2 separate regions of the Homo sapiens genome follow, and region 1 is linked to region 2. Evidence: fine-mapped expression QTL. Tissue or cell type: blood mononuclear cells. Region 2 holds a variant in brackets; the other region holds the start of a gene. All regions are shown on one strand. Distances are between the middles of the regions.

Region 1 (2,500 bases), 120 kb before region 2:
GGCCTGGGCAACAGAGCCAGACACAGTCTCAACAAAACAAAACAAAGAAAGTACTCTTTTAGCTATTCTGGAATATTAAATACATTGTTATTAACTGTGGTCATCGTGCTGTGCAATAGATCACTAAAATTTATTCCTCCTACCTGAAACTTTATACCCTTTGACTCACATTTCCCCTTTCCTCATCACCCTTTACCCCCCAGTCTTTGGTAACCACCATTCTACTCTGCTTCTATGTAAACTCATCTGGTTTTATAAGTGATCAGGGATTTAAGAGGACTTCACTCTTTTACAGTTAAATTTATTTCATATTGGGGAATGATTTTCTCACTTTGTTTCTTACATAATTTTAGAGGATTGAACTTAGAAAAATATAATGTAAGAGTTTTCTCTCAACTATTTTTGATGCTTCCTTACTTTTTGTCCTCTTTCCCCAACTTTAGCTCTTTGGTGGGGAAAATATTATTTCATAAAAGTTATGTTTGCAGTTTTCAAAGTGACTTCTTAGAAGTGAAACTTGGATCAACATTTTTTTCAACCCCCCAACTATAAGAGTTACATTTTCACTTTTGATTTGTTAAAACATACTATGTCTTATAAATGCTTGAAATTTATTTTTAGGCAAGAATTTCAACATTGAATAAAATCTTCCCAAAATTAAGTCACAAGCACTCAAAGGATTGAGGATCTTTTTCTTCCTAAAATATATGTGTGTGTGTGTGTGTGTGTGTGTCTTTATATTTATATACTAAGACCTTCCCTTTCTTGTGGACTGTGTTTTATTGGTTTAAAGTTGCAAGTCCTGTGAAACCAGGCTGAAGTCAGAATTAGAAGGTATTAATTATCATACACACTCCAAGTATCTCAGTCAAGTAACAGGAATAACTGATTACAGTGTCTGGGAGGAAGGCCTGGAACTTGGGGAAGACTTGGAGGGGAGGACTGGATGGGGAAAAGGCCTCAATAGAGAGAACTGGGTTGTTGCGGAGGGGTGACCTTTAACCTTTGGAAGGGCATTTACTAGGGAACAGCTGAAAAGCATTTACTTCGAGGGGGTGGGGGAGAGGAGGAATCTCGTGGAAGTATTTGCTTTAATAGGTCCCGGGTGATTTAGGGATGTTTCGAGTCGGTTGGTCTTGGGGGTGGCGAGGGCTACGCTGGAGGGGTCGCGTCCCAGTCCCGGGGAAGGCGGCAGGAGGTTTTCTGGGTGTTCCTGAAAACTGGGAGTTGGGGGGAAGGGTGGTGGGGAAAGTGGAATTCAGCGTGGATTTGTCTGCGTGTAGGACTATTAGAGGAGGCGCAGGGGAGCCACGCGGTGTATTCCCCGCCCCGAGAGAACTCTGGCTGCGCCTGCGACGGGCACGCCGGCCTGCGCCAAGGCCGCTTTCCCCAGGCGGCGGGCGCTCCCCCCGGCCCGGGCCGCGGCCCTCCCGCCCCGGCGGAGCCGCGCGGTGGATTGTGGGCTGGGGGCTGCGGCGGCCTCCGGCGCTGTCTCCCCGCACCCGACCGGGCCGAGCCGGCTGGGCCGGCGGGGTGAGGGAAAGCAGTGGAGTCGGGAGCAGAAGCGCTAGAGGCAGTGGTCGTGGCGCGGCGGCGGCGGCTCCCCTGGAGGCCGGGGATGTGGGAGAGGCGGTGGCAGCAGCGGCGGAGGCGGCGCTGCGGACCCGGGGGAAACTGCTGGCTGACAGGACACCCGGGAGAGACGTGAGGGAGCCGCCGCTGCCACCTCTCACCCCTGAGTGAAGCTGGGCTCGAGAGGGCGGCCCTGTGCTCCCCGGGCCGACTGGCCAGCGGGCGCGGGGCGGGGGCGGGAACCCGGGCTCGGGCCCGGCCGGGCGCCGGGCGGCGGCGGCCGTGGAGCAGCAGCCTCGGTGCGACGTGGAGGGCTGGAGGCGGCGGCGATGCACTAGGCCTCGCTCAGGGCGGCTGCCCCGGGACCCGCAGGTAGGTGTGCCCCGCGGCCCCCCGCGCGTCTCAGCCCACTCTCACCCCGACCTACAGCGGAGAGAGGGACCGAGACCCCACCCCCTCGGCTCTCCTCCCCAGCCCCAAACGGACCGAGTTTCGGTCACAGCTGACCGGCACTGAAGCTTCCATGCTCCTCTCCGCCACTTCCTTTTTTTTTTTTTTTTTTCCTTTTCACTCTCCCTCCGGGATCGGGGCTGGCAGCTGTGTTCCCTGCCTCCTGTCAGCGACCGCAAACGCCGCTCTTGCCCCTCTCTTATCTTTCCGGGATCCCAGCTCTGGAACTTCCATCACCCCCTTAGACGCTGCCCCCAAACTTTCCTTTTCTTTTTCCAGCCAGGCCCTTAGTCCTATTGGATTCTACTGGAATCGTTAAAACATTTGTTTGTTTTTCTCTCCGGGGAAGGCTAACCCAAAGAGTTACTCAGTATTTTGCATTTTGGCAATGTAGCTTGAAATAATTTGTGCAATAATTTTCTTCAGTTCTGCCTCCTTCCATCTCTGCATAGACAGAAAGGGCAGGCCCTCTCTGCCG
Region 2 (2,758 bases):
CAGGTGTTTTTGTCCCTTTCTTCAGCAGCAGGCATGTTTTTTCATTTTGTTTTATTTTGAGACGGAGTTTTGCTCTTGTCTCCCAGGCTGGAGTGCAATGGTGTGATCTCAGCTCACTGCAACTTCTGCCTCCCGGGTTCAAGCAATTCTGCTGCCTCAGCCTTCCAAGTAGCTAGGATTACAGGCATGCACCACCATGCCCAGCTAATTTTGTATTTTTAGTAGAGACAGGGTTTTACCATGTTGGCCAGGCTGGTCTCAAACTCCTGACCTCAGGTGATCCACCCTCCTTGGTCTCCCAAAGTGCTGGAATTACAGGCATGAGCCACCATGCCCGGCCCAGGAGCAGGCATGTTTTGTTCCTGGCTTCACACCGTGACCCCAGTGGTGAGAGTTTGGTGCCCCTTCTCAGTGACTTAGGCCTTTTACTTTGTATGAGAATAGGGTTTGGGGGAAATGGATGATGGCATTTGTTTCTATTTCCTTGTGGCAACTAATCACCTCCTGAATACCTGTGCTACTGGGAGTGGATCTATATGATCTTCTCCCTTTGATCCTCCTGTTTCTTCTGAGTACCTCCTGGAGGCCGTGAAGTAAAACTTGTGCATGAGTGCAGACTCTCCTTATGGCTAGGGTTTTCAGTTATCCTAAATATATCCTAGCCCACGTTTGGCCTTTAAGAATTTGTTAAAATTTTACTTATTTTCATCTTACTTGCTTCTCTTGTGGTTACCTCTTCTTTTTATGCTCTGCCAAAAGTGAGACAGTTCCTGTGTATCACCTCTCCTCAGAGGGCCTTTTCAGTCTTTGGAATTAGTTCCCCTGATCTCTGTTCTCTGATGTATGGTCTTACAGATTATCTGTTTTTTGTATTGTTAAGGTAGTAGCAATGTTCTATTGCAGCTTTCTAAATTTTAAATAAAAGTAGAACCGAAAAGTTTTTTAATGAATTAATCATACGATTAGAATGGTACTTTAGAAGTATTAATCAGATAGTGTATAAAACGGATTTGAGGTCGGACGTGGTGGCACACGCCTGTAATCCCAGCACTTTGGGAGGCCGAGGCTGGTGGATCACGAGGTCAGGAGATCAAGACCATCCTGGCCAACATGGTGAAACCCTGTCTCTACTAAAAACAAAAAATTACCTGGGCGGGGTGGCAAGTACCTGTAGTCCCAGCTACT[C/A]GGGAGGCTGAGGCAGGAGAATCACTTGAACCTGGGAGGCAGAGGTTGCAATGAGCTGAGATTGCACCACTGCACTCCAGCTTGTCATCAGAGTGAGACTCTGTCTCAAAAAATCAAAAAAAACAAACAAAAAAAACCAGATTTGAGATGATATGGCCTGTCCTCTACCTGGAATATTTTCACCTGTTTATTTTCCCTTTGAAGACTGAACACCTCAGGTGGGCAGCTCGGGAAGCCATTAGACATCATTATGTAAATATCCTTCACTTGAGTTCCTATAGCGTTCCTTGTCCACTTTTTGGAACACCAACCAGCTTTTAGACAGTTATCTCCCCAAAGGGAGATATAGTATTTAGCCCAAATTTGTCTTATAAATAAAACGGTATATAACTTCAGCTGTGTGAATTCTAAAATATAAGCTAAAAGATGGCTTTTAAAGTCATACTACCATATTGTTTCATATGTAAGAATAGTAAAATGAATTTACCTAAGTTTAAATTTTTAGCACAGAACATTGCTGAAAAAAATCCTCCTTTTAATGTTAGGGTAAAATATTACTATATTGACCCACCTACAAAATAAAAAACATATTTATTCTGCCAGATTTTTCTGTTGATTTCAGATACGATCATACTGACACATTCTTTTTTTTTTTTTTTTTTTTTTTTGAGACAGAGTTTCACTCTTGTCGCCCAGGCTGGAGTGCAGTGGTGCGATCTTGGCTCACTGCAACCTGCACCTCCCAGGTCCAAGCAATTCTCCTGTCTCAGCCTCCTGAGTAGCTGGGATTGCAGGTGCCTGCCACCATGCCCCAGCTAATTTTTAAATTGTTTAAAACGTAATCTGTTTATTTGGAGTGGCTATATTGTATATTGAGCCAGATTAGTAGCTAACAATTTTTTGAGTACTTACTTTGTATCAAGCACTGTCTTGCTTTCTTATGAGTCCTCTTTTTTAATCCTCACAGCAGCCCTTTGGGATAGATAAATTAAATAACTTGCCCAACATCACCTAGCTTAGAATGGGAGGAGCTGGGATCTGAACCCAGCAGTCTGTTCTAAGATTGGAAGCAGGCTTTGTTCTTAGTCACTGAGCTATTTTAGTTCCTTCAAAGTGAATTAAGATGTTGAATGAAAAGTTCTCAAGATTTGTATGAGTAGCGCAGATCACAGTTGAAAAGTGTAAGCTTAAGTACTATGCCAGAATTGGATATGTGGAGGGACAGTAAATATATGTCTCAGGGAATGGTGGAGACATTATGCAATTCAGAGGACATGAACATAATTCTCATTATTTTTTCCTACCAGTATGAAGTGAAGGCTCCTGTTCCTTCTGCCTGTTTCAGGAATATTTGTAAGCAAATGACAAAAATGCACGAAGCTATATTTGATCTCCTTCCAGAAGAACAAACACAGGTGAGAAGTAATTCCTAAAACTATTCATGTATATATAACATACAATATCTGTACAGAATTGGGGTGTTTTTACATGCTTTTGGCAGTTAAGCTGTTCATGTTCCAATATGATTATCATTTTTTTACATTGTTATATTGACTGGTAGAACATGGATAAA

What was found. PIP is the estimated chance that this variant, and not a neighbour inherited with it, causes the effect.
Region 1: VPS54 starts here. The variant in region 2 is fine-mapped to the expression of VPS54 in blood mononuclear cells (TOPMed, PIP 0.98).

The regions. Positions count from the first base shown.
Region 1 is chr2:64,018,382-64,020,881 of GRCh38, reverse strand. It overlaps VPS54 (VPS54 subunit of GARP complex), which reads left to right and starts at 1,454. Exons shown (of 23, transcript NM_016516.3): 1 at 1,454-1,944. RefSeq lists a silencer at 1,331-2,040 and an enhancer at 2,201-2,270.
Region 2 is chr2:63,899,316-63,902,073 of GRCh38, reverse strand. VPS54 (VPS54 subunit of GARP complex) reads left to right here. Exons shown (of 23, transcript NM_016516.3): 21 at 2,493-2,600. Among named protein-coding and RNA genes, the nearest start is that of UGP2, 59 kb to the right of the region's middle. The variant C/A (reference allele first, on the strand shown) is at 1,186.